Homo sapiens: one gene and its partners. The protein of the gene in region 3 interacts with the protein of the main gene of each other region in a pairwise test. Each region holds a gene or a part of one and is shown on either strand. Other genes may lie near its edges. The genes, in order: TMEM140, VTI1B, ASGR2, MS4A13, CD53, SEC22A and ORMDL1.

The links.
Region 1: the proteins of ASGR2 (region 3) and TMEM140 interact in binary tests that used the Homo sapiens proteins (3 or more experiments, as listed by UniProt).
Region 2: the proteins of ASGR2 (region 3) and VTI1B interact in binary tests that used the Homo sapiens proteins (3 or more experiments, as listed by UniProt).
Region 4: the proteins of ASGR2 (region 3) and MS4A13 interact in binary tests that used the Homo sapiens proteins (3 or more experiments, as listed by UniProt).
Region 5: the proteins of ASGR2 (region 3) and CD53 interact in binary tests that used the Homo sapiens proteins (3 or more experiments, as listed by UniProt).
Region 6: the proteins of ASGR2 (region 3) and SEC22A interact in binary tests that used the Homo sapiens proteins (3 or more experiments, as listed by UniProt).
Region 7: the proteins of ASGR2 (region 3) and ORMDL1 interact in binary tests that used the Homo sapiens proteins (3 or more experiments, as listed by UniProt).

The regions. Positions count from the first base shown.
Region 1 is NC_000007.14:135,154,572-135,158,071, forward strand, and holds part of TMEM140 (transmembrane protein 140), read left to right. Parts: intron 1-3,500.
Region 2 is NC_000014.9:67,668,133-67,671,632, reverse strand, and holds part of VTI1B (vesicle transport through interaction with t-SNAREs homolog 1B), read left to right. Parts: intron 1-3,500. UniProt on the Homo sapiens protein: V-SNARE that mediates vesicle transport pathways through interactions with t-SNAREs on the target membrane. These interactions are proposed to mediate aspects of the specificity of vesicle trafficking and to promote fusion of the lipid bilayers.
Region 3 is NC_000017.11:7,104,823-7,108,322, forward strand, and holds part of ASGR2 (asialoglycoprotein receptor 2), read right to left. Parts: intron 3,086-3,500; coding exon 3,014-3,085; intron 2,496-3,013; coding exon 2,409-2,495; intron 2,330-2,408; coding exon 2,178-2,329; intron 1-2,177. UniProt on the Homo sapiens protein: Mediates the endocytosis of plasma glycoproteins to which the terminal sialic acid residue on their complex carbohydrate moieties has been removed. The receptor recognizes terminal galactose and N-acetylgalactosamine units.
Region 4 is NC_000011.10:60,528,892-60,532,391, forward strand, and holds part of MS4A13 (membrane-spanning 4-domains subfamily A member 13), read left to right. Parts: intron 1-473; coding exon 474-569; intron 570-3,500. UniProt on the Homo sapiens protein: May be involved in signal transduction as a component of a multimeric receptor complex.
Region 5 is NC_000001.11:110,876,148-110,879,647, forward strand, and holds part of CD53 (leukocyte surface antigen CD53), read left to right. Parts: exon of another isoform or gene 1-1,487; coding exon of another isoform or gene 1,488-1,538; intron 1,539-3,500. UniProt on the Homo sapiens protein: Structural component of specialized membrane microdomains known as tetraspanin-enriched microdomains (TERMs), which act as platforms for receptor clustering and signaling.
Region 6 is NC_000003.12:123,204,943-123,208,442, forward strand, and holds part of SEC22A (vesicle-trafficking protein SEC22a), read left to right. Parts: intron 1-1,358; exon of another isoform or gene 1,359-2,165; intron 2,166-3,500. UniProt on the Homo sapiens protein: May be involved in vesicle transport between the ER and the Golgi complex.
Region 7 is NC_000002.12:189,777,840-189,781,339, reverse strand, and holds part of ORMDL1 (ORM1-like protein 1), read left to right. Parts: intron 1-3,500. UniProt on the Homo sapiens protein: Plays an essential role in the homeostatic regulation of sphingolipid de novo biosynthesis by modulating the activity of the serine palmitoyltransferase (SPT) in response to ceramide levels.

The DNA of each region.
Region 1 (3,500 bases), on a different chromosome or scaffold from region 3:
GATGTTTTTAATTTGTCTTAATTTCTTCATTGACCCAGTAGTTGTTCAGGAGCATGCTGTTTAATTTCCATTATCTGTATAGTTTCCAAAGTTCCTCTTGGTATTGATTTCTAGTTTTATTCCACTGTGGTCTGAGAAGATACTTGATATAATTTCAATTTTTAAAAAGTTTGTTAAAACTTCTTTTGTGGCCTTACATGTGATCTATCTTGGAGAATGTTCCATGTGCTGACAAAAATAATGTATATTCTGTAGTTGTTGGGTAGAATGTTTTATAAGTCCATTTGGTCTAAAGTTCAATTTAAGTACAATGTTTCTTTGTTAATTTTCTGTCCCAATGATCTGTCTAGTGTTGTGAGTGGAGTGTTAAAAGTCCCCTACAGTTATTGTATTGCTGTCTACCTCTTTCTTTAGTGATATTTGTTTTGTTAATCTGGGTGCTTCAATGTTGGGTACATATATATTTAGGACTATTATATCGTCTTGCTGAATTTATCCCTACATCATTATACAATGACCTTATCTTTTTTCTTACTATTTTTAATTTAAAGTCATCTGTTTTATCAGATATAAGTATAGCTATGCCTGCTTGCTTTTGGTTTATAATTACATGGAATATCTTTTTCCACCCCTTTGTTTTCAGTCTATATGTCTTTATGGGTAAGGTTAGTTTCTTGTAAGCAGCATGGATCATGTTTTTTCATCCACTCTGCCAATCTGTATCTTTTAAGTGGAGCATTTAATCCATTTACATTCAAGGTTAATATGGATCTGTGAGACTTTGTTTCTGTTATATTGTTTATTGTTTTCAGGTTGTTTTATAGACTCTTTGTCTTTGCCTTTTTGACTTTGTGTTTTGATGAAACTCTGTCATGTTGCCATTTGATTCCTTTCTCTTCCTTTGTATGATTGTTTTATACAAACTATGAGTTTTATACTTCTGTATGTTTTTGTGATGGTGAATATCAACCTTTTGGCTGGGCATCGTGGCTCATGCCTTTAATCCCAGTGCTTTGGGATGCTAGGCAGGGGGATTAATTGATGCCAGGCAGGGGCATTAATTGATGGAAGGTGGTCAAGACCAACCGGGGCAAAATAGCAAGATCTTGTCTCTACAAAAAAATTAAAAATTAACCGGGCATGGTGGCACATGTCTGTATTTCTAGCTACTCAAAAGGCTGAGGCAGGAAGATTGCTTGAGCCCACGAGGTCAAGGCTGCAATGAACTGTGATTGCACTACTGTATTCCAGGTTGAGTGACAAAGCAAGACCCTCTATCAAAAATAATTAATTAAAAACACCATTCATTTCAGTGTTTAAGATCCTTTTGAGCATTTCCTGTAGTACCAGTCTAGTGGTGACAAATTCCCTCAGCATTTGCTTGTATGGGAAGGACTTTATTTCTCCTTTTATAAAGCTTATTCTGGCAGGATACAAAATTCTTGGCTGACAGACACACTGTTTTTTTTTTTCCCTTTAGCACTTTGAAAATGCCATCCCATTGTTTTCTGGCATGTAAGAATTCTGCTGAAAAGTCCTCAATTGGTCTGATGAGATTTGGGATTTCCTTTATAGGTGACTAGTCACTTTTGCTAATTTTAAAATTCTTTCTTTCACTTGACTTCAGACATTTTGAATATGCCATGGTGAGGTCCTTTTGCAATGTATTTTCCTGGGGATCACTGGGCCTCCTGTATCTGGATGTCTATTTCTTTAAATATGTTTTCTAAACTTTCTAATCTCTCTTCCCCCTCAGAAATACCAATAATTCATAAGTTCAGTTGCTTCTTGCAGTCCCAGACATCTCAAAGGCTTTATTCATTCTTTTTTATCCTTTTTTCCTCATTTTTGTCTGACTGGATTATTTCAAAAGTCCTGTCTTCGAGTTCTGAGATTCTTTCTTCTGCTTGGTGTAGTCTACTGTTGAAGTTTTTGAGCATATGGTGTATTTCCTTCAATGAATTTTTTAGTTCCAGAATTTCTGCTTGTTTTTATTTAAGATGTCTATCTCCTTGATAAATTTCTCATTTATATCCTGGATTAATTTTCTGATTTCTTTGTATTAGTTTTCAGATTTCTCTTGCACTTCATTGAGCTTCTTTAAAATCAATATTTTGAATTCTTTATCTAGCATTTTGAAGAATTCTCTTTGATTGGGATCTGCTGCTGCTGGACAGCTGTTGTGGTTCTTTGATGATTGTTACGGTTTGACTGTGTCCCCACCCAAATCTCAACTTGAATTGTAGCTCCCATAATTCCCACATGTTGTGAGAGGGGACGCCAGGGGAGGTAACTGAATCATGGGGGCTGGTCTTTCCCATGCTATTCTCGTGATAGTGAATAAGTCTCATGAGAACCGATGGGTTCATCAGGGTTTCTGCTTTTGCTTCCTCCTCATTTTCTCTTGCCACCACCATATAAGAAGTGTGTTTCACCTCCTGCCAGGATTCTGAGGCCTCCCTAGCCATGTGGAACTGTAAGTCCAATTAAACCTCTTTTTCTTCCCAGTCTCAGGTATGTCTTTATCAGCAGTGTGAAAATGGACTAATACAATGGTGTCATGTTTCTCTGCTTTTACATGTTTCCTGTATCCTTCCATTGATTTCTTTGCGTCTGGTGTAGCAGTTGCTTGTTCCAATTTTTTGAAATTGCTTTTATAAGGGAGAATTTTTTCCTGAGGATATATGCATGTTGTTAAGATGCTTTGACTTTGATTTTGGATGCCTGCAGTCGTGTGATCTTTCTATGACTTCTTCGGCATAGGGTCAGTGTTCTCTGTGATTTCCTCAGTGGGATAGAGTATGGTAATTAGCTGAGACTAAGTCCCCAGAAGTTTAGCTGGGACTTGGATGCCAACTGAGCAGCCTTTGGACCCCAGTGGTGGCAACAGTGGGGTAAGTGTGCCCTTTTTAGGCCCCACAGCAGCTTACGCTGCTCTGGTGGTTAGTGGGTCTTGGAGGGCTGATTCTTGGGCCTCCACATGGCTTGCTTAGAAGCTAGTAGTGGGAGTGGTGAGCCCAGTGTGTGGGCATGATCTCTAGCCCCTGAGCAGGTGGTGTCATGTGAGTGATGGCAGTAGCACTGTTGAAGCAGCCAACTGGGATCCAAGCAGTCCATGTTGGTGTTGCTGGAAGCTGTGATGGGTTGGGTGAGCTACTCCCCAGTCTCACAGCCACCTGTAGCAGGGTGGTGGGCACTGTTCTAAGTGTGCTTAGGAGAGCTTGGTCTTCCCTGTCCCTTTCCTACCAGGGTGGCAGCTGCAGCCACATTGCCTGATTGTTAATTCAGACTGGTTATGAATCAGCATTAAACTCTCAAAATGGTGCCAGCTGTGGGCTTGTGAACAGAGAAGGTGGGGCCCCTATCAGGTGAGCAGCATGGTCAAGAAGCTGTAGGGAGGGTGGTCTACTTGAGTCTCGGTCTCACAGCAACCCGTAGCAGGCACTGGGTATTGTCCTAGGTATGTGCGGGAGAGCATAGATTCCTTGTTTCTCCTTGAC
Region 2 (3,500 bases), on a different chromosome or scaffold from region 3:
TTACATTCACCTTTGTTGTCTACCCAGCCTTTTTCTCCATCCTGCAAAGAGGACAATCAGAAATATGTGAATTTCTTTTCTTTTTTCTTTCTTTTTTTTGTTTTTTTGAGATAGAGTCTTGCTCTGTCGCCCAGGCTGGAGTGCAGTGGTACAATCTCAGCTCACTGCAACCTCCACCTCCTGGGTTCAAGTGATTCTCATGCCTCAGCCTTCCGAGTAGCTGGGATTACAGGCGCATGCTACCACACCTAGCCAATTTTTGTATTTTTAGTAGACACGGGGTTTCACCATGTTGGCCAGGCTGGTCTCAAACTCCTGACCTCAAGTGATCTGCCCGCCACGGCCTCCCAAAGTGCTAGGATTACAGGTGTGAGCCACTGCGCCCAACCACAAAATACTCTAAGTTGCTGGTAACAGACATAGTTGTTTAATGGATAAGTAAAGAAAATATATACATATCCCTAGAATTATAATAAGTCCAACAACTTTACCTCTTATTCACTACCTCATTCACACTGCTCAATAAATGTTTGTTGAATAAATTGAATTTATCTAAGCAAACACATGGTGCCTCATCTCTGAATCCTCTTTTTCTAGTTCAGAGACCACATCATAAAGTTTTCAGAGCTTTAATGCCCATCATGAATTATTAGGCACAGCATAATGTACATAATACAGTCCTTGCATGTAGCTTATGCTCTGTAATTGAATTCAGTCATTTTTCAATAAACACTGAGAATTATTATGTATCAGCCACTGTCTAGGCTCTGAGGACTTCCAGAGTTCTTACCTTAAAAAGAAACAAACGGCCGGGCACGGTGGCTCATGCTGGTAGTCCCATCACTTTGGGAGGCCTAGGCGGGCGGATCACAAGGTCACGGATGGAGACCATCCTGGTCAACATGGTGAAACCCCATCTCTACTCAAAATACAAAAATTAGCTGGGTGTGGTGGCATGTGCCTGTAGTCCCAGCTACTCAGGAGGCTGAGGCAGGAGAATCGATTAAACCCAGGGGGCAGAGATTGCAGGCGACAGAGCGAGACTCTATCTCAGAAAAAAAAAAAGGTAACAAACCTTACAACCAAGTGTGTGATTAATCCTAAAATAAAGTTCTCTGAGACCATAAAAAGGGCTGGACTTGAGCATGGGGAAGAGGGGGAAGCTTCAAAAAACTTCAAACTGAATATAAGGGATTGAATGGGAGTTTGCTAGATGGGAAATGCGAAGAGGCAACACAGGAGTAAAACATGGAATACTCCCAACTCTGGAGCTTAGAATGTATGTGGGAAAGTAGTAGTAGAGGGGCAGGTGAAACAGCCAGATTGTGAGGGGATCTCAGTGTCACATTGAGACATTTGGACTTGATATGGAAAGTCAGTAAAGGACGTAAAGCAGTTGATTGATGTGGATTTTCTTTTAGAAGGAGGGCATTAATGGCTAGACAGGACAAGAGAGAGCACAAGAATCTGGGTACAGGGGACTGTGTTAAGAGCCTTTTGGGCAGTCACCTTGCTAACGGGAATTTGTTTGACACAGGTTCTCACTCCTGTCTCCCGTCATCCAGGCTGGAGTGCAGTGGCACCATCACTGCTCACTGCAGCCTTGGCTTCCCGGGCTCAGGTGATCCTCCCACCTCAGCCTCCCGAGTAGCTGGGACCACAGGTGCATGGCACCAGGCCTGGCTAATTTTTTGTATTTTTAGTAAGGGTCTCCCATGTTATCCAGGCTGTTCTCGAATTCCTGGGCTTAAGTGATCCACCCACCTCAGCCTCTTAAAGTGCTGGGGTTACAGGGGTGAGCTACAGTTCCCGGCCCAAGAGTTGGTTTTGAGGCAGAAATTAACCAGCCTCAATGGATATGAGGAGTGAGGGAGAAAGGTTCCAGGGTGTCTGCATTTTTTCACTTGGTCAACTGGGTGAATGATGAACTTAAGTAAGAAACATAAGAGGAGAAGCAGAGTTTGGGTTGTGGATGAGAATATCAAAGGTACCTGTAGAACAGAGATCATGACATAATATAGCCTTACAAAATGTTTCTTCTTCTGCCATTAAAAATAACATACGGGGGCCAGGTGTGGTGGCTCGTGCCTGTAATCCCAACATTTTGGGAGGCTGAGGCAGGAGGATTGCATGAGGCCAAGAGTTGGAGACCAGCCTTGGCAACATGGTGAGACCTATCTCTACAAAAAAAAAAAAGCTGAGTAGTGTGGTGCTGCTCACTTGTAATCCCAGCTGCTCAGGAGGCTGAGGCAGGAGGATCACTTGAGTCTAGCAGTTTGAAGTTTTAGTGAGCTGTCATCACATCATTGCACTCCAACCTGGGTGACAGAGCAAGACTCCGTCTCAAAAAAAAAAAAAAAAATTATGAAGAAGTATGTGAATTGAGAGGCCATATAGTATAATATTTAACAGCAAGAATTCAAGAGCCAGATTGCCTGAGTTTAAATTCACCTTCTAGTAGCAGTGTGACCTTGGACAGGTTACTTTAACCCAATTAGTTTTTCCTGCCAAATGGGGATAAATCATAGTATCTACTTCACAGGGTTTTTGTGAGGAGTAAATGAGTTAATATATGTAAAGTCCTTAGAATACTGCCTGATAATAGAGCTACTAGCCATTTTATTTAAATGAAAATTAAGAATACCAGCCCTGTATACAACTATTCTTACCTTTTTTTTTCCAGAGTACTTATTTTCTGACATATTAGACACTTTCCACATTTATGATATTTACAGTATATTGTTTGTCTTCCTTTCACTAGGACAGTGGTTTCATTGTGGTCCATGAACCAGCTGCATCAGCATCATTTGGGAACTTGTTAGAAATGCAAATTCTCAGGCCCCACCCCAGACCTATTGAATCAGAAAGTTTTAACAAGCAGTGTGTTTTCACAGCCCTCCAGGGGGTTTCTGATGAAGGCTAAGTGTGAAAGCCACTGAGCTAGAATATAAGCTCAATGTTGTCTTTTTTTCACTGTGTTTCCTAAGTACCAGAACAGTGCCTAGCACAGACTAGGTGCTTCATAGATACCTATTGGATGATGGAATGTGTGAATTGTTGGAAAGAAAATATTGATATATGATTGTGATTTATTTCTATTCTGTTGTCCACATTTTCATTACTTTAAAAATGGGTATATTCCACCTATTAAAACAACAAAAACTGTATTTCTCCAAAGTACAGTCTCCATTCACTTTCTGCCTTTGAATGATACTAGAGACAATGTGTCCTGTTTTAGGAAGTTTTTGTGTAACTGTCCATTACCACTTACAATAATTATTAATCCATTTAATATTTCATTAAATACCTATGGCCATAATTTCTACTCTTGGTTTTACAACCTCTGAAGAGGTCTCTCCAATTACCTCAGAGTACTATAATGTGCTATAATTTCTTAATCTAATCAATGTTAAATGCCTGTGGTCATGATTTCTAGTTTTGGTTTTGTCATACCTGAAGACATCTCTCCATATGTCTTAACGTGTATCATAAAAATATTG
Region 3 (3,500 bases):
AAAGTTAGCCAGGCACGATGGCGGGTGCCTGTAATCTCAGCTACTCGGGATACTAAGACAGGAGAATTGCTTGAACCTGGGAGGCAGAGGTTGCAGTGAGCCAAGATCGCGCCATTGCACTCCAGCCTGGGCGACAGAGCAAGACTCCATCTCAAAAAAAAAAAAAATTTTTTTTTTTTTTCAGATACAACACTTAAGGAACCTAGGAAAGGAAAGACTCAGACACATGGGAATAAGAGGTATCCTGGTCTCCTCACCTTTCCTATGGAAGTTATACAAACTTTTAGTTTTCAAAGCCAATAATTTTCAGCCTATTATTTAAAGTTATACAAGTAATCACTGGAATAACTCTAAATAAACTACATAGTTTCCAAAATACCATAAAGAAGAAAACAAAAAGAACACCTCTCACATAGCAATTGTAAGAAAATTAAGAAGCATGTAAAGCAGAAAAAAGAAAGGACTAGGGTTAAACATATCTATTAGAATGTAAATGAGACACTCACCTATTAAAAGAAAAGGTACTTATTAGATTTTTAAACATCAAAAACAAAACCTGCCAGGTGCAGTTTTTGGATTACAGTGGCTCAGACACCTGTAATCCCAATATTTTGGGAGGCCCAGGCGGGCGAATCGCTTGAGGCCAGGGGTTCAAGACCAGCCTGGGCAACATGGCACAACACCATTTCTACTAAAAATGCAAAAAACTACCCAGGTATGGTGGTGTGCACCTGTAGTCCCAGCTACTTGGGAGGCTGAGGTGGGAGAATCCGTTGAGCCCGGGAGGCACAGGTTACAGTGAGCTGAGATCATGCCACTGCACTCCAACCTGGGCGATAGAGCCAGATCTTGTATCAAAAACAAAACAAAACAAAAAACCTATATAGGAGAAATACCTTAAGCTTAGCTGCCCTGTGCTGCCCCTCAGGGAATGGTCCAGGATGAAGCCAAGATTAATTTAAATTAGCATTTTTTTTTTTTTTTGAGTCAGAGTCTCGCACTGTCACCCGGGCTGGAGTATAATGGCGCAGTCTCAGCTCACCACAACCTCTGCCTCCCGGGTTCAAGTGATTCTCCTGCCTCAGCCTCCTGAGTAGCTGGGATTACAGGCACCCGCCACCATGCCCGGCTAATTTTTGTATGTTTAGTACAGATAGGGTTTCACCATTTTGGCCAGGCTGGTCTCGAACTCCTGACTTCATGATCCGCCCACCTCGGCCTCCCAAAGTGCTGGGATTACAGGCGTGAGCCACTGCACCCGGCCTAAATCAGCATTTTTAAGGGCGAGATCCAGGAGTCGATATATTTTTTTTAACTCTTGAAGAGATTGCAATGTACAGTCAAGACTGAGAATCATTAATTTAAAACAGAGATTCAAAAAGGTAAGAAACAAAAGGATGGACAGAGATACAGCAAGCAAATGCAAGTGACAAAAAAATCAAGGACCGTGGTATTTATATATCAGATAAATTCAAGGCAAAAAGCATTAACTGGGACACACGTTGGCTTCATAGTGACGAAAGCACCGTCCACCACGAAGTTGTAGTGGTCATGAGCTTATTGTGTGCCAAATCACAGAGCACTGAGATCTTAGGTTGAACTGCATGAAACTGACATTTTTATAGGTCAAAACTGATGAAATGTTGGCAAGTTCAACCTGATCAGTAAAGCAAAATATGTTCGTACTCACAGTATGCTGTAAAGTACTAACAGAGCCTGATGTAATGCAAACAATACATATATTCTGGCCCCTGTATCATATGGCTTAACTACTGTGGCATTAAAATACTTTGAAGTTCAGCCAGACGCGGTGGTTCACGCCTGTAATCCCACCACTTTGGGAGGCGGAGGTGGGCGGATCATGAGGTCAGGAGTTCCAGACCAGCCTGGCTAAGACGGTGAAACCCCGTCTCTACTAAAAATACAAAAAAATTAGCCGGGCATGGTGGCACGTGCCTGTAATCCCAGCACTTTGGGAGGCCGAGGCAGGAGAATGGCGTGAACCCAGAAGGCGGAGCTTGCAGTGAGCCGAGATCGTGCCACTGCACTCCAGCTTGGGCGACAGAGCGAGACTCCATCTCAAAAAAAAAAAAAAAATGGATAAAATAAGCCTGATCCAGCCTCCCAGAGCAGGCCTTCCAAGGGCTTCCTCCTGCCTGTGGGAAGCGTGGCCTCACCTGCTCCTCCCAGGAGTTGATGACCACCAGGTGTGCGTTCTCCAGCTGGCAGTACTTCTCCGCCTCAGCCCAGGCCTTCCCGGAGTGAGAGAACCAGTAGCAGCTGCCTTGGTGCTCCACCCAGTTGACGGGGCAGCAGGTCCTTTGGGAGCCTGAGGGGACAGGGGGCAGGGAGATGAGATCCAGCCGGAGGGGCAGGCACACTGGGCCTGGAGACGGCCCCACCCCTACCGTTGCTGTGGAGGAGCTCCATCTGGCAGGCCACGAAGCGCAGGTCCACGGGGAAGTGCTTCAGATGGAAGAGCAGGGCATCGTGATCTAGGACAGACAGGCTGAAAGTGCTGCCGGCAGGTGTGGTCCCCACCTGCTAGGCTCCAGCCTGTGGCTGGGGAAGCATATACACCCACAGACACGTACACCATGCATAGACCACACCACACACCATACCACACACACACCACAGACATGTACACCACACATAGACCACACCACACACAGATCCATCACACACACACAAACACACCAAGAGACACACCACACACATCACATGCGTACACACACATATACCATACCGCACACACACAGACTCATCTCACACACACCACCACACATGCATACACACACAACACACACATATACACCACACTACACACCACACACAGATCCATGACATATCACACCACACATACGGAGAGAGACACAGATACACATGCTTGCAGGCACACACACGCACGCACGCACACGTGCACACTACACACACCGCACACGTACACACTACACACACCGCACACGTACACATGCACGCACATGCGCACACACCCCGGAGGCTCTCTGACCTGCTTTCAGGTCCTGCTGCTGTTTCTCCAGCTTGGCTCCTAGGGATGTGATCTTGTCACCCACGCTGCCTCCTGGAAGCGGAAAGCCAGCTGTTTCCCCGCTGAGCCTCCCTCCGTCCTCATGCTGCTGGGGGACCGGGGGCCAGCGCCTCGTCCTGGGCGATGCAGGCGTCCACCTCCTGGCTTCCTGGACCACACCCAGGCTCCCTGCACTGCCACAGTGGCTCAGGCCACTCTCCTGCTTCAGTCCCTTCAATGGGTCCCCATTTTCTCAAAATAAAGCCTCGCTCTGTCAGCACGGCTCACCTGCGTGGCCGGGCCCCTCCCCACCTCTCTCTGGCCACCCCTTACCTGCCTGCCCCTCCGATGGGCCTGCCACACTCGATTTGCTCACAGGCCCAAGACATGGTGCCTTCCTCACCTCCGGGTGTCGCAGATCCAACCTCTCCACCTGGCACTAACCTCGTCCGTCCCCACCTGCCTCCCT
Region 4 (3,500 bases), on a different chromosome or scaffold from region 3:
ATTAGAGCAATATATATGTGAGAGTTTTATCACCATGTATGTAAATTTAAGAAGGGTTGTGATTAATAATAGCTGTTTTAATAGAAAAGGATTGCTTGATAAATCTGTTGGTGGCCATCTTATCATTAGAGACAGGAAAGTCAAATCTTACTAACTGGAGAGTTTAGATAGTGAGCTGTGCCAGCGACTCTGTAAAAGCTGTCAGAAGTGAGACAAGAATGCTAAGCAATGGAGATCAAATGCAGAAGCCACAGATGCTGAATTGAGGAACTGAAAGCTAGGGAAAGTGTAGCAGAGGGCAAAGGAGTAGAAATGTCTAAGGAAATCAAATGGTGAAAGGTTTATCTGTTCTTATTTTCCTTCCTTTTTTTTTTTTTTTTTTTTGACTCTCATACCAGTAGCTCCTTCCATGATCATGTTTGCACTCACTAAAGATAATAGCATTAAGATTTCTCCCTGTTTTTTGGTTATAGAAACTTGGGAGGGAAGTATCACGTATTTTACTGTTCTTCTACGGTTTGGAATTTTCTATTGCACTTACACACTCAATATACAGCTGTTCCAATTTGGTAAGTGTTTACCCACTCTCTGGCAAATCAAAAGATGTTGATTTCTAGTAACTACACTCTATGAGAAGATGAAGTGCACTGATACAAAATATTTAGAACTAATATAAATGGAATGTGTGATATTGCCTTTATTTTTTATTTTTGTTATTTTATAAATAGCATAAAATTATAACAGTAATACATGAAACTACATTTAAAAGCAAAAAGCATATAGAGTAAAAAGTGATTTTTCTTTAATATAGTTCTCATCGTATCCACACATCCAATTCTATACAAAAAAAGACGAATACACACACATTCTCTTTACTAATTGTATGTATTATATTCACATTATTTTGTCACATTCATTTTTTGCAATGATTAGAAATATCTTTCCATTACAAAACATATCTAAATAATGCCTTTTATTGCCTTCATTGTTTTTCTTAGTATTTAGCATTCCCTAATTACTGCATATGTAGCTTGGTTTCCAGTTTTTTCTAAATTATAAACAATGATGCAGTGAACATTTGAGTATAAATATTTTTGCATACAGGACCACTAATTCTTTAGGTGTTTGATTCCTAGAAATGTCATTGCAGGATCAAGTGTAACAACATCCCAAAATGCTATAACAACTCACAAAAGTTTATGAGAATGATTATTTTCTCACAAGCTTAAAAGACTACATATCTAACATTCATTCATTCTTTCTCAAATATTTACGGAGAGCATGCTATTTGCTAGGCATTGTCATAGGCACTAAGGATGCAATGATTAACAAAACAATGGCCTCTCCATTAGGGAGTTTGCATTCCACTGGGGGAGAAAGGCAATAAACAAACACATAAAATTATAAAATGTCAAGAACTGAAAAATGTTATGAAGTAAAATAAAGCAAACTAAGGAGATAAGGCAAGATTATTTTATGTAGGATGGTCAAGGAAGACTACTATGATCAACAACTGATTGAAATACAGAAACAACTATAAGACTACATGGTAAAAGGATTTCTGAAGAGAGGGAATGAGTTGCATTTCCAGAATGGCTGATTGAGGACATGGTAACTCTCCCTAAAAATGAAATTATAAAACTGAACAAAATTGTCAATGAACAACCTTCTAAAGATTCAGGAAGTTGACCAAGCATACAAGAACTTGAGAAGTGTTTATTTAAGAAAATCTACTGGACCTCAGTAAGAACAGTGCATGTCTGTGGCATGTTAGCTTGGGACTGTTCCCACTCTTCCCACCTGATATGGTTAGGCTTTGTGTCCCCACCCAAATCTCATCTTGAATTGTAATCCCCAGGTTTTGAGGGAGGAACCTGATGGGAGGAAACTGGATCATGGGGGCAGTTTTCCCCATGCTATTCTCATGATAGTGAGTGAGTTCTCATGAGATCTGATAGTTTTATAAGTGTTTAGCAAGTTCCTCATTCACTCAGTCTTCTTTCTCCTGCTGCCATGTGAAAAAGGTCCTTGCTTCCCCTTTGCCTTACGCCATCATTGTAAGTTTCCTGAGGTCTCCCAAGCCATGTGGAACTGTAAGTCAATTAAACCTCTTTCCTTTATAAATTACCCAGTCTTGACAAGTTTGTTATAGCAGTGTGAAAACAGACTAATATACTACCCCACCCTCAGATTCCGTTACGCAGAAGTTTACCTTGGTGGGTCAGACTGTGAGGCCCAGCAGCCTCATTGCTTGAGATGACTAGTTTTATTTGGAACAGAGCTCAGAAAGTTCCAAGACCAAAAGCGTTATTAAAACAACAGTAATCCCAGTGACAAACAAGCAGATAAGGCCAAGGTCACTCCTAGCCTGACTAAGATCACAATACTTGTTGGGGCAAAAAATTTACTAGCAACCAACCAGAAACTCAACAGAGAAATTTGAAGAACAGGACAGCCACAGTGGACCTTGATAACTTCCTACTTTTCCCCTGTAGTCTGGAAGAATATAAATATGTGCAAAGCTATACACATACTAAGGAGACAGGAGAAGGTCCTAGTGAGCCCTTGGTTGAACAAGAGGCCTTGCAAAAATAAAGTAAAAGCTGGGGCAACCTCAACTTTGAATATATTGCTCAAGCTACACTGATTCATTGGGAAAGGGTAGAAGTCTTACTGGCTCAAGGTGTCTAATACTTTCCTAGAGCTTCTATAACAAAGCACCACAGACTGTAGCTTAAACAACAAACTTATTTTCTTACAATTCCAGAGGCTAGAAGTTCAAGATCAAGGTGTTGGCAGGGTTAGTTTCTTCTGAGGCATCTCTCTTTGGCTTTCACTTGGCTGTCTTCTCCCTGTGTTTTCACATGGTCTTCTCTTTATTTGTCTGTGTCCTAGTCTCTTCTAAGCTCACCAGTCATATTAGATTAGGGCTCATTCTAATTACCTTATTATAACTTCATTGCCAGTTAAAAGACCCTATTTCCAAATACAGTCACATTCCAAGGTACTGGGAGTTAGGACTTCCAGTATTCCAAGATACTAACCACTGGTATTGCTAACCACCACTCCTGGGAAATGAGGCAATCAGAATCTAAAATTGCTACCATATATTATCTAAAATGTCCAGTTTTCAACAACAAAAAGTATGCAAATAATAATAGTTACCCATAGGGTTCAAAACAACACTTAATAGACATAGCGTCTTTGAGCAAGGGAAGAATAAATGTTGGACTTAACAAAGAAAGGCTTCAAAAATTAGTAAAGTAGGTTGGAGGAGCCAAGATGGCCGAATAGGAACAGCTCCGGTCTACAGCTCCCAGCATGAGCGACGCAGAAGACGGGTGATTTCTGCATTTCCATCTGAGGTACCAGGTTCATCTCACTAGGGAGTGCCAGACAGTGGGCGCAGGCCAGTGTGTGCACGCACCGTGCGCGAGCCGAAGCAGGGCGAGGCATTGCCTCACCTGGGAAGCTCAAGGGGTCAGGGAGTTCCCTTTCCG
Region 5 (3,500 bases), on a different chromosome or scaffold from region 3:
AATGAGAGCCAATAAATAGGAGCTGTCGCAACTGTCCAATCTGCTTACTTTTCAGGTAAAATGACTTGTCCAAAAATCATAAAATTACTTAATAGTTATTCAGAATGTCTTCTGATTCTCTATGGCATGCTCTTTCTTCTACATTATACTATAGTCCCTTTTCTAAGAGATTTTTTATTAAGTAAGCATCATTAGACTGTATTCTTCATTTACATAAATTCCTAGTGCATTTTAACATAAGCAAACATAAAAATACCACTTAATTGTAAATGTAATTGATCTTAAGCTACTATGCTAGCAAACTAAATACTTAACATATATTTTATTTTCCAAACCTTTTTGTTTGGCCTTTTCTATTTCAGGAGAACTAGATTGAGGAATAGGGGTAAGAAATGATTTTAATGCCTCATATCTTTTAAAACTTGTTAAAGTTTACTTGTTAAAGTAAATTTGAACTTATGGCTTACCTTATATCAGGAGCAAATAAAGGCATTCAAGAATTATTCCATAGTTTAGTCTTCTTAAAATAACTATTGTAGAATCTCAGTATTTATAACATAGAAGACAAATTGTAATGATTTTGAGATGAGAATCCCTTAGATCATTTATTTATTTCCCATCCCTTTAAAAAAATGACAAAATTCAGACTGATAAAAAGGTTGAAAAAATATTATGAAAAATTTCTAAATCCTTTTCACCCAGATTTCCAAAATATTAACATTTTACTTCATTTGTTTATTCTCTGGCTCTCTCATTTGACAGTAATTAGTAATTTGATTGATGCCCTTTCCCCTAAGAATGTTAGTGTATATTTCTACAAACAAATGCATTCTCTTATATAACTACTTTACAATGATCAAAACCAGGAAATTAACACTTATGCAATATAATTAACAATCTATGTACTTTATTCAGATTCCACCAATTACCTCTTTAATATTCTTTATAGCAAAAGGAAATTTCTAGTCACGCATTGCCTTCAACTGTCACTTTTGTCTCCTTTAGTCTGGAACACTTCCTGAATTTTTCTTGCCATTGATATTCTTGAAGAGTAAGGTCAGTTCTTTTTTAGAATGTTTCTCCATTTGGGTTTATCTGATGTTTCCTCATGATTAGATTCAGGTTATTTAAATTTTTGATAGGAATACCAACAAAGTGGCTTTTCTTATCCCACAAAGAGTCTTGCTTAATCTGAGCATAGCCAGCCTGCAGACACCATGGACAGGCCTCTAGCCGAGGGACCCCGTATGTAAAGTTCTGCATATTTCTACCTAGGAGGACGGAGAACCTCTGGTCTCTTGACTCTGTAACAGTGCTAACTGTTTTAGGTAACTGTTCCTGATTTACGAAGTAAGCTTATTAGAAGAGTCCCTGTCCCACCTCAGCTGTTATTAGTATCTTGCTAAGCTCCCACATGGGAGGAAGTGAGCTTCCAAGATCATCTGGATTTGTCTTTCTTCACTTTTTCTCTCCTCTTTTCTTCTTCCTTATTTCTCTCTTCTTCTATAAATCGCCAAATCCTCTCCCCTAACAGCGACCTAGAAGAAACAAAATTTTTATCAGATTACAATTTTAGGAAGGAATAAGATAACAGATATTCCTTGATTAGTTGATGGAGAGATGAATGGACACGAATACATGAGAGTTGATGCTTTGGCTTCGTTTTATTTTACCCCTACTTCTTCCTCTACAACTGCTTATTACTCTTCAAAAGGACGTACAGCGATAACTTTGATTGCACCTCAGCCACTGCTCACAGGAGTTCAAACGAGCTGATGAAAAATGGAAGGTCTTCTCCTGGATGCTCAACACATTGCACCAAATGAGTTGGGAAGTAATAGGCACAAAACCAGAGCCTGGGACGGTGGAAAGAGCATGGGCTTTGGAGGCTGAAAGAACTTGGCCTTCACCCTGCCTTTGATGATTCTTAGCTGGGTGACCTTGTGCCAGTCCTCGGCTTCTCTATTTGCAGAATGGGGCTAATGACACCTAAGTTGTCAGGCCGATTTGAGGATTATAAATAAGACATTTATGAGGAACTTAGTTATTTTGTGGGATTCAGTGAACTATCTATTATGTATCTCAGTTTGTTTGAGCAAGGCCTACATTTGGGAGCCCTCACTGGGGCAGATTTTCGCTCCTATTTAGAAAAACTTTTTCTTAATCACAGCCTCAATTGTCTTTGCTAAGGAACAAAGACTGCCACAGGCTCTGTGTAGGAAGGGATAGGGAGCCGTAATTACCTTGCGAATGCTCTTGTATGTAAATTGACAATCTGTATATAGAGAAATGTATATGGAGAAGTGTCTGGAAAGACGTTTGCCAAAATGCTAATGATGGTTATCTCTGGGAGGTGGGATTTCAGAAGATTTTATGCTTTCTTCTTTATACTTTTCTTTATTTTTTAAATGTAGAATTTTTTTTTAAAGAAAGCATGCTTACATTTGCTTTCTATTGCTGGATTTTTCAACTTTTTCTAATAGGTTTGAATGGAGTAAGAAATGTGTTCTAATAATATATATTCTCAATCTTAGCTTACAAAGGTGTTTCTCTACCAAACACTTCCATTCACTGAAAGAAAACAATTTATGCATCTTAAAGAAACTGTGCTTACATTTGCCTTTTATTGCTGGGATTTTCCAACATGTCTTAACAGAGTTCAGTGGAGAAAGAAATGTGTTCTAATAACGTATTCTCAATCTTAGCATACAAAGGTGTTTTTCTATTAAACGCTTTTCTTCACTGAAAGGAAGTCTTACAGAAACTGTACTTGCATTTATTTATTTATCTTTTATTACTGAAATTTAACATTTTCAATTTGTTCTAATAGGTACAAATGGAAAAAAAACATGTGCTTTTCTTTATTGTTTGATTTCTTTTTGTTTTTTTATTTTTTTTACAAATGGCACACGAAACCTCTTTTTAAAACGTATGAAACAAGCAAGGGATTATTCTTGCCCCGTGTATGTTTTATTCCTAAAAATCTGTTAGAAGCTAAGGGTTACCCTTAGGAATGGACTGGTAGGTAAGGTCTGAACTTGATCTTTCAGTGAGTTTTCACTGAATAAGGCAGATACACAGGGACTGAGCCATCCTGGAAATAGTATCTCATTTAGCCCTCAGAACAACCTCTGAGGTAAGTATTAATAACCCTATTTCAAAGATATAGTGAAAGACAGGTTAAGCAAGTTGCCCAAGGTCACACTTCTGATAAGTAGCACTAACAGAATTCAAAACTAGACCTGTCTGATTCCAAAGCTAGTGTTTATCAAACTGTGTTCCACAGAATACTATGTTATTTGACCTGTTAATAAGTGATCTGCAACATAAAACTAGGTTTGTAGTTATATAAACATATTTTTGTCTTAGAGACTCACAGTGCACATTAGCATATAACAGGTTTTTCTCTTACACTGTTTTTTTTTCTTTATCTTGGCTTTTGTTTGAGGAGCACTTACTAATATCTCATAAGCGTAATGGTCTATGTAGCACCAAAGCTG
Region 6 (3,500 bases), on a different chromosome or scaffold from region 3:
TTCCCAACCACAACCCTCCTTAAGACCTTAAAGATACTTTAACCTAGCTTAGGCCTGACATGGACAGATTTCCTTTTCTGCTAGCACAGTCCAGATAAGATTAGTTTAAAAAAAAACAAACTATATTATGAATCCGTGGTAAAAAGAAAAAAAGTAGGGGTATGTTTATTGAATTGATGGAGAGACAGCTTAGCCTAAGGTGGTTGGAATCTGTCTACAAATTAGTTAAGCCTGACGTTGATCATTGGACATTCATCCCCGTTTGTCAGGCTTAAATTCAAGTGCTTTGGATGCTGAATCAAATTACTGTGGTAGAAAGAGGTTTAATTTTTTCCCTAAGAAAAATCTTATCTATGGATAAGTAGAAACCATTCTCTGACAACCTTGTAATAATTTTGACAGGGAATGTAACTACTGTGTTCTGCTTTTGGTTAAAGGCTAAAGTACATATTAGGAAAATTTGAGGCTGGGCGCAGTGGCTCACACCTGTAATCCCAGCACTTTGTGAGGCCGACGCAGGTGGATCACTTGAGGTCAGAATTTGAGACCAGCCTGGCCAACACAGTTAAGCCCCATCTCTACTAAAAATACAAAAATTAGCCAGGCATGGTGGCGGGCACCTGTAATCCCAGCTACTTGGCAGGATGAGGCAGGGGAATCGCTTGAACCTGGGAGGCAGAGGTTGCAGTGAGCCATTGCACTCCAGCCTGGGCAACAGAGTGAGACCCTGTTTCAAAACAAAACAAAACAAAACAAAAAAACAACAAAAAAAGGAGTATTTGAAATGTAAGTTTGTCCAACTTTAGTTTTCCAGTTAGTGAAGTGGTGGGCAACACACCTGCATTGTTTGCTCTTTTCAACTGAGTTTCTCTAATTGAGGAGTGATGTTTCTTGATGGTAGGACTCTTCATTCCTGCTATCTGGCATAATTCATGGGACACATTAGATATTCAGTAAATGTTTGGTAAACGAATGGAACTTACAAATTGTATTCTTTTTACAGTATGTGTTTTAGAAAGCATGGATCATATATTTATTGATCTGTCCTCCAAGTCACTAAAGAATAACTTTGAAGACTACATGAAATTTGGCAACCTATTAATGAAGTCTATTCATAATATTTCTATTAGGATCCTAGAGAGGCCAGACATAAAATAATACAGTCTACTTTTATTTTACTTTTTGAGACAGGATCTCTCTCATCACCCAGGTTGGACTGCAGTGGCACAATCATAGCTCACCATTGCCTTGAACTCCTGGGCCTGCTTCAGCCTCCCCAAAGCAAGTACTATAGGCGTGTGCCACCATGCCCAGCTGATTTTTAATTTTTTTTATAGAGACAGAGCCTCACCATGTTTCTAGGTTGGTCTTGAACTCCTGGCCTCAAGCAGTGTTGGGATTATGGGTATAAGCCATGGCACCCCATCCAATCTGCTTTTAAATACTAAAATGTGGGTATTTAGAACTGCAAGTTACAACTCACCCTCAAATTAATTCCCAGAATGGTTATTGTGTTGCAGTGTACTTCTGGAAAGACAACAGTTTTATAGTTAAATAATAAACGCTTAAGGGGATAGAGTAAGACATTTTCCTACTTTCTTACACTTAGGCTAAATGTTACAATTGTGATTTAATAATTAAGTAAAACATGGTAAAAAAAAAATTAAAGAGGGGTTTATAGTATAGATATCTCTTCAGGGATCCCAACTTTTTCATGCTACTGCTTTTAGGAGAGAAAAAAACTAGATGAATGGAAAAAAACACCAATTGGGATATGTCACACTGGGACTTCAGTTTGAAGACTCCACTGTAGTAAAAAGACTAATTTGCTTCTGGATATTTTTCTCTTTAAATGAATGGAGAGGCTGGGCGTGGTAGCTCATGCCTGTAATCCTAGTACTTTGGGAGGCTGAGGTGGACAGATCACTTCAGGCCAGGAGTTTGAGACCAGCCTGGCCAACATGGCGAAACCTCATCTCTACTGAAAATACAAAAATGAGCTGGGTGTTGTGGCGCATGCCTGTAATCCTAGCTACTCGCGAGGCTGAGGCATGAGAATTGCTTGAATCTGGGAGGTGGAGGTTGCAGTGAACTGAGATCGCACCACTACACTCGTCTGGGTGACACAGTGAGACCCTGTCTCTGAAGGAGAAAAATATTAAAGGGTAATGACACAGTAACACCTAGAGATTTCTCCTTTTTCCTCATGAAAAGAGGAAAAAGGGATAGTGAACTTAATGCATTAGATTTATTAGTTGGGTTAATTTTTATTGTCAGATCAGTTATCACCATGAATGGGAAGTCATATTTTGACTTCACACAGCAGTGAAAACTATCAGCTCCTGATTTACAAGCTTTGTAACAACTGGTTTTCTGTGGTATTTTTTTTTATATATATTACTCATTTTTTCCTTTTTGGAATGAGATAATATTGACCTAGATTAAGTGGGCAGGTAAGGATTAATTTAGTCTCTAAGATACAATATTTTTGGAAAAATGCCTGTGAGATTTTTATCAGATTTTTGAATTTTCACCAGTTGCCTCACCACTAGTGAGGAAGCCTTTAGTGACATTGTGCTTTGATGGCCTGACAGAGAAGAGTTATCACTTAATCTTAGATAGTGAACATGTTTTAATTTAATGTTTTAAAAAGTATGGGCCTTAGACAATAAGCAAATTGTCAAGCCCTATCCCACAGTCAGTGGTTCAGAATTTTGAGGGCAGAGCTCAGAAATCTGCATTTTTAACTAAACTTTCAACTTCTTATGCAAGCTAAAGTTTGAGAGCCACTGTGTATTTTATGAAAGGTTGAGTGACTGTTGACCTGAGTTCCTTCAGACTCAGGCCTGTGAAGTCCTTTCATCTGTTTTTGTAAAGCAAGAAGAGAATCCAATAAAATAGGCCATTAAGATTTACTTTCTGGTAAAAAGATTGAGAACAACATTAAAACCAATATTCCTTTAGCTTTAGGATTTATTTTAAATAATTTTTTTCTGATTATAAAAGTAGTATATGTCTACTGTGAATATTGAGAACATTTAGGAAATTATAAAATAATAATAACCAATAATACCATTTCTTAGAGGTGAGCATATTCTTAATTTGGCATCTTTTTCTGCATCCGTTTTTCAATCCCTTTTTCCTTCTCTTTATCTTCGTCTCTTTATCCTTATGTTTGTGTAAAACAACATTTGCAATTTTTATCCTACTTTTTTCTCCTTAACATGTAAGCATTTTACCACATTATTAAACTTTCTCCACAAACATAACTTTTAGTTGCTGCATTATATTCTGTTATATGAATATACTATAATTTACTTAACCATCACCATTTTATAGGATATTTAGATTGCTTTCAGTTATTTGAGTGGAAGAATGTCTTTCTGTTTAAAATTTTGCCTGGATTTCTGATTATTTTTCTCAAGACAGGTATATATTTAAATTTATTGAGGTTAAAAGGTATGCCTTCAGACTCTTGTTGAAATTGCCAAATCATTTTG
Region 7 (3,500 bases), on a different chromosome or scaffold from region 3:
ATTTTAATTGAATCCAGTTTAGCAGTACATTTGTTGAAAGATATTTTTTAAAATGAACTTAAAGCATTAAGACAGGAAAACAGGAGAAATTGATTTTTAAAAATTAATATTTATTTTGGCCAGTCACGGTGGCTCATGCCTGTAATCCCAGTGCTTTGGGAGGCTGAGGTGGACAGATCACTTGAGCTCAGGATTTCAAGACCAGCCTGGGCAACATGGTGAAGCCTGAAATTCTGTCTCTACAAAAAATACAAAACCTTAGCCTGGCATGGTGGCAGCACATCTATAGTCCCAGCTATTCGGGAGGCTGAGGTAGGAGAATCGCTTGAGCCTGGGAGGTGGAGGTTGCAGTGAGCCAAGATCGTGCCACTGCACTCCAGCCTGGGTGACAGTGAGACCCTGCCTCAAATAATAACAATAATATTTATTTTCTATCTTCTGGAGTATATTTGAAGTTGACTGGAGGAGGATAAGAATGATGTGCTGGTAGACATGATAAATATGTGTCCATTTAGTCCATTTTATGTGATAGACTTTGTAAGAGCAAACGATGTTTTCTTTTAAATAGTGACTTCTCTGAAATATTTTACACTAATCATCTCACTTTTGTTGAAACTTCCTTTGGCTTCTATAGGATCACTTTCACCGGCATATATTTCTGACCTTCTCTTTCTTCTTATGGGGTCTTCCTTCTCTTTTCCTCTCTTAAATATTTCTATTCCCAAGGTTCTTTTCTTCATCTCTTCTTATGCTATGTATTCTACCTAGGTTACTTCATCTACCCATATTTTCAGTTTCTACCTGTAGAATAAGGATGCTCCTATTTATTTTTATCACCAGATTACTTTGCACCTTAAACCAAACAAGTATAAATGGAACTTATCTTATTCCTGATTACTCCCTTACCACCCACAATCTGATCCTCTGGCTTCACTACTAATCTTATCTAAAGGCCAAGCCAGACAGCTGAATGTTAATGGTAAAGCAATTAATATACAGGTTGAGCATCCCTAATCAGAAACCCAAAATAGAAAATGTTCTAAAATTAGAAACTTTTTTAGCACCAGTGTTGTGCCACAAGCGGAAAATTCCATACCTGACTTCCTGACAGGTTGCAATTAAAATGCAATCAAAACTTTATTTCATGCACAAAATTATTAAAGATACTATATAAAATTATCTTTAGGCTGTGTGTGTATGATGTATATGAAACATAAATGAATTTCATGTTTAGACTTGGGCCCTGTCCCCAAGATATCTCATTATGTATATGCCGATATTCCAAAATCCAAAACAATCCAAAATCTGAAACACTTCTGCTCCAAAGCATTGTGGATAAGGAATACTCAACCTGTAATGTATAGTCCAAACAGGCTGTTTAGAGAGTAAAATGGAGCTTTGGTAATAACTACTACAAGAGATTAGGTATAATCAGAACCATCGTATGCAAACAAGAATACAAGGTCACCTAAGTCTTAGGATAACTTCTTTTCCTTTATATTCCATATCCATTTGCTCAGAGCACTGTCTTCTACTGCTTTACTCTCAACTTGATCCCCATACCCTCATTTTTTCCTCAAGTAAATTACTCAGATAAATCAAATAGTCTTCTTGATGCTTCTCTACCCTTCTCCATTCCAGCTTGGCAGAGTGATGTTTTAAAAATGCATGTTTGCTCAAGTCATACTCTAAGTCATTCAGTGATCATCCATTGCAGTCATGGTAAAATCCAAGTTTCTTGTGTGACATATAAGACCAGTTGATAACAGTGCAGAAACAAGGAGACTTCACCTTGTCTCAACCATCTCTAAATAGAGGCTATACACTAGCAATAAAGAAAATCATCTTGCTCTCATTTTATTGTTTTGGCTTAAGCTTTTCTACTATATTTTCTTTTCACCTGGACCAAGTACTCTTTTGTTTTTAAGAGACTGGCGTGATCATAGCTCCTCCCACCTTAGCTTCCCAATAAATTTGAGGACTGCAGGCACATGCCACCACACCCGGCTAATTTGTTTTTATTTTAATAGTGATAGGCTCTCACTATGTTGCCCAGGCTGGTCTTGAACTCCTGGCCTCAAGCAGTCCTTCTGCACCATCCTCCAAAAGTGCTGGGATTACAGGCATGAGCCAGCATGCCCAGCCATTTTGTTTTTCTTACAGAGACAGGGTCTCACTCTGTTACCCAGGCTGGAGTGCAGTGGCATGATCATAGCTCACTGCAGCCTCGAACTCCTGGTCTCAAGTGATCTTCCTGCCTCAGCCTTCCAAGTAGCTAGGACTATAGGTGTGTGCCACCATGCTCAGCTGATTGACTGATTGAGATGGGGGTCTTGCTGTGTTACCCAGTCTAGTCTCAAACTCCTGACCTCAAGTGATCCTCCTGTCTCAGCCTCCCAAAGCATGAGTGAGCCATAGTACTCAGGGTCTACTTTTATTTTTTTTGAGATGGAGTCTCTCTGTGTCATCCAGGCTGGAGTGCAGTGGCGCAATCTTGGCTCACTGCAACCTGCACCTCCCAGGTTCAAGCAATTCTCCTGCCTCAGCGTCCTGAACAGATGGGACTACAGGCATGTGCCACTACACCTGGCTAATTTTTGTATTTTTAGTACAGATGGGGTTTCAACATGTTGGCCGGGCTGGACTTGAACTCCTGACCTCAGGTGATCCACCTGCCTTGGCCTTCCAAAATGCTGGGATTACAGGTGTGAGCTACCATGCCCGGCCCAGTCTCTACTATTTTAATACCTCTCCCTCCTTCCTGCTCTGCCTGATTTCCTACAGCAAAACTGTCCCTCCAGGAATCTACACAACTCCCATGCTGCATTCTTTTATCATGTGTTTGTCATTGTTTTATAATTAGCAGTTTATCTCTTTATGTTTTAATTTTTGTATCGCTAAGAACGTATTTAAATGTTTGCCGAATAAGTTAGTCCTTTTTTTTTGAGACGGAGTTTCACTCTGTCACCCAGGCTGGAGTACAGTGGCACGATCTTGGCTCACTGCAACCTCCCCCTCCTGGGTTCAAGCGATTCTCCTGCCTCAGCCTCCTGAGTCGCTGGGATTACAGGTGTGCACCACCATGCCTGGCTAATTTTTGTATTTTTAGTACAGACAGGGTTTCACCATGTTGGTCAGGCTGGTCTCGAACTCCCAACCTCAGGTGATCTGCCCGCCTCGGCCTCCCAAAGTGCTGAGTGTGAGCCACCACGGTTTAGATGCCATCCCTGTACCACCACCACCCCCTAACCGTGTTTCAAGTTGGTTGACCATGGACAAATGATTGGTAATTGACATTGTATAGAAAAGCAAACTTCTGATTTATTTGTTATTAGTTCACCACACTAAAAACTTAATTAGCCATCGGAGTTGCAATTACATGACTCCAAATTTAAGTTTCCTTTGAATATAGCCACATTAAACCAATTAAAAATCTGAAGTACATATTGAATGCCTTTAAAAATGAGAAAATGGACCTAATTGTTACACCCGGTTAGAAA